Regions from separate parts of the Homo sapiens genome. Here all the other regions are reported to be linked to region 1. Evidence: microRNA targets listed by miRTarBase, many of them from high-throughput screens and not tested one by one. Region 1 holds a microRNA gene; each other region holds the end of a gene's coding sequence. Distances are between the middles of the regions.

Region 1 (3,257 bases):
TTATGGTGAATTGTCATAACAAATTTTGGCTTCCTACCAGAAACATCTGCATTTGCCTCCTGCTTGCAGATTTATGGCTTAACTTTGTCATGCTTATTACACCCGAGAAAACTGAAGTCTCAGCTTTAATATTTTTTCTGTGATTTCATTAGACTTTTGCTCTAATTTAAAGTTCTTATTAGTGAGGAAAAGAAATATTCTTAAATAACAATAATACTGTAAACATGTATTTAGAAATCATCTTCTTCAATTTCTAACATGCTTTGATCCAAAACCATCACAGAAACCCAGATTGTCTGCCAAATGTGAAAAAGGCACAGTTTCAAACTATTCTACTTGTATTTTTACCCCCACTGTCTCTTGAAACAGGTAACCATGAAGGATAACATTAATACCTTTGTTTCTAGGATTATAGAATTATGTCACCAGTTCCCTCATGGAATCACAGACCAAGTAATTCAGAATGAAATGCCTCATATAGAAGCCCAGCAGCGGGCAGTAGCCATCAATAGGTTGTTGTCTATGGTAAGGTGAATCTAACTATTTTGCATAATTACTGATATGCTGATTATCACTGGTTTTTATTATGTAGTTGTGATGGTTAATTTCATGTCAACTTGACTAAGATACAGGATTCCTACATATCTAGTTAAATATTTTATTGGAGTGTCTGTGTGGGTGTTTCTGAAAGAGGTTAGCATTTTGAATTGGTGAACGGAGTAAAGTAGATATGGGTCCAGTTGGGTGAGCATCATCCAATCCATTCAGGGCCTAAATAGAACAAAGTGGCAGAGGAAGATTGAATTCACTCTTTGAATTCAATCTTGAGCTGGGCTATGAATCTTGTGCCCTCAGCACTCCTGGTTCTCAGACCTTCAGACTTGGACTGGTATCTACACCATCAGCTCTCTGCTCTCAGCCCTTTGATCTGCAACACCAGCTTTCCTGGGTCTCCAGCTTGCAGAGGGCAGATGATGGGACTCCTCAGCCTCCATAATCACAGAGCAAATAGCTTCTGATGAATCTTTCAAGAGGGAGGTGTATCCTATTGGTTCTTTTTCTCTGGAGAACCCTAATACAGCAGTCATAAAACGAGAAAGTGTGTTAGGTTTGACTGATAAGACTCTAAACCAGGAAACAGCTCAAACTACCTGAATTGAAAAAAGAAGAAATAATTATGCGTTATAAGACAAATGAAATAAATGTATTATGGTATAACTGTTGTATTTATTAATTGCCACTGCCATACATAGGTCTAGTCTGTTCTCACCTTCTGTTTGCTTCCTACTGCTGGTGTTGGGCCATTTCCCATAAAATATTCCACCCCCCGATTTTCCTATGAGTTGTCACAGAGCCCAGTCATCAGGGTTTCATTCTCCACATTGTCACTCTGAGCATTTCAGGAAGCAAGAATGAGTCCAGTTGAATGAAGAATGTTGGGCTTTGGGGAGGAAGTGCAGCCTTAGCCCCCAGTGACATTGCAATGGAATTTATCAGTGAAGCCATTCTCCATCTGTCCAGAAACAAACAAGCAAGACTGTCTAAAAACCCACCAAGTGGTGCCGATGCTCTAAATCTCCCTTACTTTCCCTCATCACCAAAACATCCTTTTCCTAAGAGCATTTCAGTTTGGCTTTAGTAGCAGTTAGGTTAAAGAGTTCTACGCCAAGGCCTCATCTGAATGACTGATTTGTTTTTTAAGTCTACTAGCCTTGTTGGATTTCCAAGGGCTCTGGATGTGGAGATTTGGGGTCCGATGAATCTTTTCTTAAACCTTTCCCATCAATTTTCTAGCTCAGGAGTTGGCAAACTTTTTCTATAAAGTGCCAGACAGTATATGTTTTAGGCTTTGTGAGCCATATGATTTCTGTCACAACTACACTGTCATTTTAGCAAGAAGCAGCCATGGATGATGATACATAAACAAATGGCTACAGCCATGTTCCAACAAAACTTTGGTTATAAAAACAAGCTGTGGAGCAGATTGCTCACCCCTGTTCTAGCCCAAGGACAAAGGAATGTTGCTGATTTCTAGTTATTTCACTGTGGTGAAGGTCTTCAGCTCTAGGAAAGACAGAGGAAGGGATTCTGGGAGGTTGTAGCAGTGGAAAAAGTTCTTTTCTTCCTCTGATCGCCCTCTCAGCTCTTTCCTTCTGACTGAAAATCATCTTCAGCACCTCTCTTTTACCACCTCTGCCACCACCCACCCACTGCGAGTCCTATTGGCTATAGGTTGTATGCAGGCAGTAGTAGAGCTATCAAAGGATATTAAGAAAGGGAGTGATTATTAATAAATCATGTAATGTTTCTGATTTTAGCTCTTAAAAACAGTTCTTAAATTTGCTGTCCACACCCCCTCCATTTCTATCCCTGGTACTGCATCATGTTCAGGCTCATGGCTTTTACCTGGACAGCTGCAGTAGCATCTTAACTGGTTTCCATGACTCCATCTGTCTCAGAGAAGCCAGCCTGATTTGGGATTACAGTCATGAGCCACCGAGCCTGGCCCCTGATCTGTCTTAAATGCAGGTCTGACCAAGGCACTCTACCACCTACAATTTGTTTATACTGGAGATTCAAGTTCAAACTCCTGGGTTTCCCACACTGAGTCCCTGCATTGTTCACCAGCCTCATCTCCACCACTCTACTTCAAAAGTTAGGTTTCAGGAGGAGCAGATTGTTTTTGGTTTCTGGCCACATCATGCTGTTTCGTGCCACAGGACTCATGTTGTTCCCCTGCTTAGAAGGTTCTTCTTATTCTTTACAGATGACTAACGCATTAGGACTCAACTCTGCCATTGTCTCCAGGAAGTCACTGAACCCCCCCAGGTTGGGCCGCAGCCTGTTCTCCGAGTACCCAATCTGGGAGTTCAGGGTGGCTTTACTTACCTCTATCTTAATGCCAACCAGATGGGTATTGAAGTCACCTGTGTGTTTCCCTTTTAGAATTAATGTTGTTCCCCCAAACACCTATCATAACACCTGGCACAGTACAAGTATTCAGTAAATATTCATAAGCTGGATAAATGACCAGAGCCTCTGGATTGGGCCTTGTAGTCCTACTTTGCCACTTCGTGGGGTCAGGGAACAGGAGTGTGTCACTGTTCATTCAGTATGTAAATCCATTTCCAAGTCATGAGTGTCTGTTTTAAAACAAGGGAATGGGCTGGGCACAGTGGCTCCTGCCAGTAATCCCAGCACTTTGGGAGGCCGAGGTAGGCGGATCACTAGAGGCCAGGAGTTCAAGATCAGCCTGG
Region 2 (3,000 bases), not on the chromosome of region 1:
TCTCCACTAAAACGCCTGCTTTTCTTAACTCCACACCGAACCAACCTGAAATATTTTGGCCCAGAATGCCAACAAGAATTGAAGAAAAGATGCTTTACAAAAATAACAATATAAAAGCAAATTATATTATCCCTTTTATCTCCATTCTTACATTAAAAAAAAAAAAAAAAATCGGCCGGACGTGGTGGCTCACGCCTGTAATCCCAGCACTTTGGGAAGCCAAGGCGGGCAGATCACGAGGTCAGGAGATCGAGACCATCCTGGCTAACACAGTGAAACCCCATCTCTACTAAAAAAAAAAAAAAAAAAAAATTAGCCGGGCATGGTGGCGGGCACCTGTAGTCCCAGCTGCTTGGGAGGCTGAGGCAGGAGAATGGTGTGAACCTGGGAGATGGAGCTTGCAGTGAACCAAGATAGCACCACTGCACTCCAGCATGGGCGACAGAGCGAGACTCCGTCTCAAAAAAAAAAAAAAATCTCCCCCAAATACCAGTTGCAAAGTCCTTGAAAACAAAGGGAGTACAATAGCAGTATGATTTAGGGCACACTGGACAGTATGGGTCACTAGCAAAATTATTATACTTATAGGGAGTAATAATCCCAAATTGTGTTCATGGCCCTTCAAATCCTTTAGCAACAGATTTTCTCCCAAAATCAATGGACTTCATAATTATAGATTCCCAAACCTGCTATCTCTTCTTCCTACTCAAATTATATTTGCTCCAGTGTTAAACTAAATACTGCTAATTTGTCAGCTTATCCCAATGTAGGACAGCCAAAATAACTGTAAGGAGAGCTATCTTTGCAGCCATCTCACTTTTCACATTACTTTATCCCTCCATGGTTAACTGACATTTTGATATTGATAATTCAAGCCAAGGCTACCTGCCTTGTAGACTAAGGGGGCTACTTTGACAACAGAGTTCAACAGTATTGTAGACAGCTAACACCTGTCCTTGAAGAGAAGTGAAAGAAAAAGCTAACAACATTCCGCAGTCTGAAAATATCTTAACAAATTAGTTTCTACTTTCTCATTTCTAAAAGCTTGAATCTATCATCTAGTTAACATAAGGGATGATTAAACACTGAATGTTCCTCTCAAAGGTAACCATTTTGCTTTCTTAGAAGGAGGTAGCTATCAAACCAAAAAACTGGCAGCATTTGGCATTCTTGACATTTTAATTAGAGCAGAAATAAACTACTAAATATTTTATTTCTAAGCAAAACAGAGCTCCAGCATAAATCCTGTTTGTCTGAGAAATTCACAATACATTTTAGAAATCCAATGGATACATTCAAAATGTTATCTAATAAATAACAAGGTCAGGTCTACTCCAAATCTAAGAATCTGATTTAAACATAAGGTGCCAAAAAACTACCAGGGCTTTTTTTTTTTGGTGGTTATAAACAATACTTGATATTTAAGCAACACAGTCACACTGCTTTAAACTTAGTTGCAGAGATCTACAATTTATTATTATTTTCAGTGTTAGAGCTAGAGGGTAATTTTTTCAAAGATGGCACTCAACTCCACTTATTTACCTGTCAACAAATACAGAACTGAACTGTTAGCCATAAGCACTTTACAAACAGACTCAGGAAACTATGCAGTAGACAATGACATAGCTTAACCAGACTCTGAAAAAGAGATACATATTTTGATTCACACTTGTACAAAGAGAACAGTCATGTCTGCATGACTTAAGGTTCCCTAAACACAACTGTTTTATGTTTTAGACCCCTGGAGTGTGCCAGTTTACCACATCAGGGAGGAATCAAGGGATGTGTGTGCTCCTTCTAAAGAACCAAGGGCAAGTGGGGTGGGGGTGGCTACAGGGAACGCTCTGGGCAAAAGAGCTGCCTCAGGTTTTTGTGGGAATGAAAATTACTTGTTGCAGTTAAGCAATTCCTAGGGTTTATCTAGTTTGAGGTTCAAAACAAAGGAGAGAATTATTTCCTTCCTCGAGCTCTTCCCAAAGCAATATGCACATCTCATAATCAAATCTCAAGTAGTACAAAGAGATAATCAATTATCTAAAAATTTAATTTACATACATGTTGGCCTGGATTAAAAACAAAAAAGTTAGTTTCCATAAATAGCAGACTTTAGTGCTGTATGACCCAATGACTAAAAATAAAACCAGGAAGTTTTTACTAAAAGCTCAAGGATAAAAATGAACACTGGCTGGCTATTGAACTCCACATCTGACAATAATTACTGACAGTTTAAAAATGTATATCCAAAATATAACCTCAAGAGGACCAGGTTTATTTGTCCGACAGAGCAGCTCAAAATGTTGAGGCATCATTTGTTTGGATTATGATGGGTTATTCTCGAAGTTTATTTATTTAGAAGGGGAAAGTGATTATAGAAAAATACTTGAAATAATTTGCCAATGAAGTTGCAGATTCTAACAATAATCCACATCTTAGATTTTTAAGTGTGTAGTTTCATAGTTTAAACAAATTCTGTCAAAGAACTATTCAATATACTTTATCACTTTAACTTTCCATGAAAACCAAATAAAAATCACATCCGAATGATTTACTTCTATGCTTTTATCTGATTGTATACATATGATGTACTACGCATCCAAGTACAAGAGGCAGTTATCTTCTCTGAGAGGTGCAAGAGTTGTTCTTTCATGAATGCCCTCTAATAGTGAAACCAGCAATTTTTATATATGCATTCATGTGCATATACATGTACTTCAAAAAGCAAAGCGTCATCTCTTCGTCCATTGTTAACTTAATGGTAAGACTGCAATAGAAAAAAGAAAAAGTCAACTTCTAGATTTTGCAAATGGAGTTTATTAACTCCTTACTGTGGCTTAAAGTAAATTTATTGCTTAATAAATCCAAACAGCAAGTCACATCATTTACTCTGGCATACACTTTGCAAAACAAATATTTTTAGATAATATATATAGCAAGAAAGAAATTACACTAATGCAAGGAGGAAGTTTTAGGGGTACTTTAAAGATTTCTTTTCCTTTATAG
Region 3 (3,000 bases), not on the chromosome of region 1:
TCAGCTGAGTTTTTGGAAGACATATGCACAAAAGGAGAAGGAGCAGTTGGAAAATACATTTCTGGACTATGCCAACAAGCTGAGCGAGAGGAACCTGAAATGTTTTTTTGAAAACAAGAGGCCAGATCCTTTTCCCATGCCTACGTTTGCTGCCTGGGAGGCTGCTTCAGAGCTGCATTCTTTCCACCAAAGCCAGCAACACTATAGCACCCTCCACAGAGTGGTGGACAATGGTCTGCAACTTAGCCCTGAGGATGATGAGACGACAATGGTCCTTGTGGGTACTGCCCACAATATGTAGCTCATCCACCATCAATGACTCATGGTGTTGAGTGGCATGCTCATTCTGTGATCCTCCTAACGTATCACCAGCAACCTGTGTGTCTCTGTATTTTCTTACATTTGGAGTATGTTTACAAGACAATAACACAAAGGAAACTGCTTTGAAGCTCTCAAGTGGAACATCAGGATGTGCTCAAATTGATGCTGAGGGGTGACAAAGGTGCTCTTGCATTGGTGGAGAGGGGCTCAGTAGGCCTAAATGTTGCTCCAAGATCTAAGATTTTATCATTCAACAGACAGACTCATGTGAGAGGGCTCATCAGTCTCTGTAAATATTGGTTGCAGAATTTAGGGGCAGAAGCAATGGCTTGTGAGTGAGCAAGTTACTCTTAACATAGGTTGCCCTACACAGTGGCTCCTGCAGTGTGATCAGCAGGAGTCTCTGTCCTACAAATCTACACTTTTAAGGATGTATGAAATTGTGGAATTCATTCCCTCAGGATCTGAAGATCTCAGTTCTCAAAAATCACAAGTTGCAAGAATATGATACCTAAAATTGAAAGTTTTTCACATGTTTTCACTGTATACTGAAAATACTCCCCTGGAAGCAGGGCTGCATCATAATTTTTGTGGGCTTTATGTACTTTTGCCTTTGCGAACCATTTCCTACATTCAAAATAGTAGTAACAAATATATATATATATATATATATATATATATATATATATATATATATATACACACACACAGAAATATATATTTATAACTGCATTGATAAAAGGTGAATATATTAGCATTTTCTTCAACCTAAAAGTTTATGTATTTTCTTCTGATTTTAAAAGAAATTAAAAACATTTTAGTGGGCCCTTACAAGTATTATGGTCCTTAGGCACAGTGCTTACTAGGCCGTGGGTATGTCTTAGTGCGTTTGGGCTACTATAACAAAATATCATAGATAGGTGGCTTATACAAAATAGAAATTTATTTCTCACAGTTCTGGAGGCTGGGAAGTCCGAGGTCAGGCTGCCAGCATGCTCAGGTTCTGGTGAGAGCAATTTTCCAGGTTGCAAACTGCTTGCTGACTTCTCAGTGTCCTTCCATGGTGGAAAGTGCAAATAAGCTCCCTTGAGCATTTTTATAAGGCACTAATCCCATTCCTGGAGGCTCCACCTTCATGACCCAATTACTTCTCAAGGCTCTGCTTCTTAGTACTATCAGCTTGGGGGTTAAGATTTCAACATATGAAATTGGGGGAGACACAAACATTCAGACTATAGTAGGGTAAATTGACCTTGGCTAAAGGTCTGGGGACACTGTCCAAAGCAGTACTGGCATAAAACTGCATTGCAGTCTTACATTTATCAGAAATAATGCAAATCTTGCATTCTACAATGTACTATATCCATGTTAGTATGTACATATATATGTGTATGTATATATGTACATAAATTCTCCTTAAATCTCTGAGAAGAATTGTGCTTTAAAAAAGAACTATGTTTTGTGCTGTGGCTCATACCTTACAGTGGTAGTCTATGTCTCTTAGTTTGAGAAAGCTGAATATTAACTTCTTATTAACATGAAACATGATGGCAAACTGAATCCTACAAGTATAGGACCCAGAACATATCTATGTTATTGTCATTTACAAGAAGAAATATGTATTTGGTCTTTCTTCCTATTCCTGGTGCAGAGCTCCTAAAACCTTTGGGACCTCCCAAGTGATGTGTCTGGTAGTACGCGAATGAGATGACTGATAGTTAGGGGCTTCTGAATGGCCTCAGAATAGGGTCTGGTTGCCACGGGAACCAACCATGTGTTTAGAGGGTTGGAACTTTCAGCCCCACTCCCAGACCTTGGGGAAGGAAGAGGGGCTGAAGGTTGAGTCGATCACAAATGGATAATGATTTAATCAATCATGCCTAAGAATAAAGCTTCCCATAAAAATCTAAAGGACAAGGTTCAGAGAGCTTCTGCATTGCTCAATACATGAGGAGTGGTGAGCCCAAAGGGGCCGTGGAAGCTCCGTGCCCCTTCCCCCAAACCTGTTCCTGTGCCTCCATCTGGCTGTTTCTGAGTTATATTATTTTATAATAGACTGATGATAGTAAATAAAGCCCTTTCCTGAGTTCTGTGAGCTACTCTAGCAAATGGTGAAATCTGAGAAGGAAATCATGGGAACCTCTGCTTTGTAGCCACGTCAGATAGAAGATGTGAGTAACTTTGGAACCTACTGCTTGTGACTGGTGTCTGAAGTTGGGGGAGATCTTATGGGACTGAGCTCTTAACCTGCTGGGGATCTGCACTTAATGCCGATTAATGCCAGAATTGAATTGTATGATATCCAGTTGGTATTGGAGAATTGGCCAGTGTGGGAGAAAACCCACACAGTTGGTGGCAAGGAGTGTTCAGTGTTGAGTGTGAATGTCAATAAAAAAAGGTTTGTTTTTTCTACGTACAATATCTTTGGGAACTTGGAGGTGCAGGGTCAGACGTCTGTGTGTGTATGTGGCAGGGACAGAACAGGGATTAGGGATGTGAGGGGGTAGAGTTTTCAGAATAAAGGGAGAGAAAATTCAGCAAAGAGTTCTCCTTCTTAATCTTTCTTGACTTAAAGTTTGTCTGCCCTTAAGTGTCTTCTGAGCTGGAAAAAGACATATAGGAACTGGCCGATGCCGATGCCTCTTTTGCAGTGTGTGAGAGGCTGAAACAGAAGTTCTA
Region 4 (3,244 bases), 32 Mb from region 1:
ATTTATGTGATTTGCAAACTGGGAAATGACTCACAGAAAGCCGTGAAGATCCTCCAGTCCTTATCAGCAGCTCAAGAGTTAGACCCTTTAACAGTTCGGGATGTTGTGGGGGGCCTCATGGCCTGGGCTGCCAAAATCGATGGAACATTTCCACAGTACTGAGGTGACTGGTATAGTCTGATGAGAAAGATGTGGATTGCCATAATACCTCAAAGATACACTTGTTTGCATTTTTCGGTAATATACATAGGAGCTGGGGATTCTACAGTATCTGTGAATACGTGGACTCCTTTTTATAAGGAGTTTTAAAAATTGTTATGTATTGGATGAATGACTTATTAATGGATTATACCGTTTCTGAGAACCATCATTTTTTTTTTCAGCACACGGAGGATGTCTTGGACATGTGAGATGTAACGTGACAGGATTTTGCATTTTAAACTGCAGATCATTTACATGTCCTTATTTTCCACCTCCCCCAGTCAAAATGCTTTCTAAATCATTTTCACAGATTATATACTTCGGATCTGTTTACTGTTCAGTTAAGAAATTCTTGGATCTTATTAATATTTCAGATGATAGAATACATCCTACAGAAATACATGTTTAAAATGTAAATTGTTTTAATTATTCAGAAAGAGGGTCATTCTATTTGGCCTTTTGAATTAGTATCAAAATGAGATTTTTTTTTTTTTTTTGAGATGGAATCTCTCTCTGTTGCCCAGGCTGGAGTGTAGTGGTGCGATCTCAGCTCACTGCAACCTCCGCCTCCCAGGTTCAAGCGATTCTCCTGCCTCAGCCTCCTGAGTAGCTGGGATTACAGGCGCACGCCACCACGCCTGGCTAATTTTTGTATTTTTAGTACAGAGGGGGTTTCACCATGTTTGTCAGGCTGGTCTCGAACTCCTGACCTCGTGATCCGCCTGCCTCGACTTCCCAGAGTGCTGGGATTACAGGCGTGAGCCACCACACCCTCCCGAGATCTTTAAAGTTTACCAAAATAAAGGAAACCACCTTTGTAGTCTGTCAGTGTCTCTTATAAATTGCTACTGTTTTCTTAAAGTTAACTTCAGGGTCCACCTTATGTTGCACACATATCACATCGTTTAAATTGCATACTATGGTTTGACTTGCTTTGGAATTTTCAAGTCAAAGTCCCAACCCTTTGCCTCTCCCCCTTTAATTTGCCTTTTCTCTTTTGATTTAATGTTTTTTTATTCCAGCATTTTATACTAATGTAAAATGTTTTTATGTTTGTTTACTTAACATTTTCATAAAATAGTAGGTAGTCTCACCAACTTCCAATATATACAACAACATTATAAGTAAAAATTTGATTTGTGAGTGCCTATCAGTGGCCAGATGAACTAATGGCTTGTCAGAAGGGGGCCTGTGACCTCCTGCTTGCTGCATGCAGGCTTATAATCATCAATTGCTGCTGTTGTTTTTTTAAGAATGGCAGAAATCACAGATACAACTATAAAATCTTTGTATTTCTGTTAACCATTTTTTTTAAAGCTTAAATGTATCATAAGCCAGCAAAAACCCTTTGTAGACCAGATTTACTTACCAGTTTGCAATTTGTGATATAGAATCTTGTTTTATTATAAGAGGGTGGTATTTAACAAATTCAAAATTAGTCATCACTTTTTAACTGTGAAACATTGTAACTAATTCTTTGAACAGGTATACTTAAAGTATGGTATACCCTTCTGTTATAAAGATGAAGCAGGTCTCTTATGACTGTTCCTGCCAACGAGTTATGGAGGTAAATGACTGTGACCTGGAGTGGAGAACAAAGATGGCTGGCCTGTGTTTTTCATCTCCTTCTTCCAGGGACAACTGATTCTGATACATAGCAGGAAACAAATAGCGACACACAGGAACAATTTCATATTCTAAAGACTGAAGTCCTAAAGTTATAGACAGTTGTAGTTCCTATAAACCTGGTTGTCACAGGGGACAGGCAAGAGAAGCTGACTAGCTAAGTGTTAAAAGGTTTACTAAAGTGATAGGAGGTGCTTTTGAGAATTTTGGGGACAGATTCAAGGCTGTACTTCTAGGAATGATGCCCGAAATCATGCACAAAACTGGCCTTAGGAGAACAGTGTCTATGTTGTGCTGCCCTATCAAGTACCGGAGGAAACGCCACTACAGTCTCACCAGTTTCACTTGACGTGCCCCCCCAACTCTCCCAGAAAGCCCAACACTTCAGCCACAGTCCATGTGTCGAGAAACAGAGTCACTACATTATTCTTTTCTGAGTCAAGCCTTATGAGGGTGCCTGGTAGGCAGAGTCTAATTACATGCCTACATCTTAGCTGCAAGAGAGGCTGGGAATTTGTGTTTTGATATCTACAATAGGAAGACAGAACTCATGATGTGGGATTTTCCCAAATAGTGAAATATTTTTCAAAAGATGGGCTGTTAAGAATATAACAGATACCCAGTACACAACCCAGATCTATTTCAGTATTTGTTTTTTGTTGTTGTTGTTTTGGAGACAGAGTCTCGCTCTATCCCCCAGGCTGGATGGAGTGCAGCGGCACAATCTCGGCTCACTGCAACCTCCACCTCCCATGTTCAAGTGATTCTCATGCCTCAGCCTCCTGAGTAGCTGGGATTACAGGCACCTGCCACCACATCTGGCTAATTTTTCTATTTTTAGTAGCGATGGGGTTTCGCCATGTTGGCCTGGCTGGTCTTGAACTCCTGACCTCAGGTGATCTGTGCACCTCAGCCTCCCAAAGTGCTAGGATTACAGGCATGAGTCACTGCACCTGGCATATATTAGTATTTGAAATTTGGTTTTCTCTGGGGATTGTAGCTAGGTTTTTATGGTGAGATAGGATTTGAACATAATTTGTTTTTTGAGACGAAGTCTTGCTTCGTCGCCCAGGGTGGAGTGTAGTGTTGTGATCACAGCTCGCTGTGGCCTCAACCTCCTGGGTTCAAGTGATCCTCCCACCTCAGCCTCTCAAGTAGCTTGAATTACAGTTGTATGCCACCATGCCTAGCCATTTTTTAATTTAAAAATTTTTTGGTAGCAATGGGGTCTGAATATGTGGCCTAGGCTGATCTCAAACTCCTGGGCTCAAGCATCCCTCCTGCCTCAGCCTCCCAAAGTGCTTGGGATTACGGGTATGAGGCACCATGCCCAGCCTGAACTTGATTTTTTTGTTGTTTCCTTTTCATAACAAACATCAAATGCCTTCAGTGTACTAGTTCTTCTAGGTTCTGGAAT

Evidence for each region. Region 1 holds the annotated microRNA hsa-miR-3192-5p (UCUGGGAGGUUGUAGCAGUGGAA, at 2,088-2,110, shown strand). A microRNA usually pairs through its seed, bases 2 to 8, with sites in the 3' UTR of a target mRNA and lowers its output. Matches are read on the target gene's strand: a 7mer-m8 pairs with bases 2 to 8, a 7mer-A1 pairs with bases 2 to 7 and ends in A, and an 8mer does both.
Region 2: miRTarBase lists MAPK1IP1L as a target of hsa-miR-3192-5p. Seed matches in the 3' UTR shown: 7mer-m8 at 385-391.
Region 3: miRTarBase lists CALHM5 as a target of hsa-miR-3192-5p. Seed matches in the 3' UTR shown: 8mer at 2,126-2,133.
Region 4: miRTarBase lists MOCS3 as a target of hsa-miR-3192-5p. Seed matches in the 3' UTR shown: 7mer-m8 at 769-775, 7mer-A1 at 935-941 and 8mer at 2,192-2,199.

What each region holds. Positions count from the first base shown.
Region 1 is chr20:18,468,537-18,471,793 of GRCh38, forward strand. MIR3192 (microRNA 3192) reads left to right here and starts at 2,079; the gene lies at 2,079-2,155. POLR3F (RNA polymerase III subunit F) reads left to right here. Exons shown (of 9, transcript NM_006466.4): 2 at 408-525.
Region 2 is chr14:55,064,377-55,067,376 of GRCh38, reverse strand. MAPK1IP1L (mitogen-activated protein kinase 1 interacting protein 1 like) reads right to left here. Exons shown (of 4, transcript NM_144578.4): 4 at 1-2,761. The coding sequence ends at 2,750. Among named protein-coding and RNA genes, the nearest start is that of MAPK1IP1L, 14 kb to the right of the region's middle.
Region 3 is chr6:116,515,689-116,518,688 of GRCh38, forward strand. It overlaps CALHM5 (calcium homeostasis modulator family member 5), which reads left to right. Exons shown (of 2, transcript NM_153711.5): 2 at 1-3,000. The coding sequence ends at 301. The region is part of intron 3 of TRAPPC3L (trafficking protein particle complex subunit 3L); the gene reads right to left. Among named protein-coding and RNA genes, the nearest start is that of CALHM5, 5.6 kb to the left of the region's middle.
Region 4 is chr20:50,960,064-50,963,307 of GRCh38, forward strand. MOCS3 (molybdenum cofactor synthesis 3) reads left to right here. Exons shown (of 1, transcript NM_014484.5): 1 at 1-3,244. The coding sequence ends at 162. Among named protein-coding and RNA genes, the nearest start is that of MOCS3, 2.9 kb to the left of the region's middle.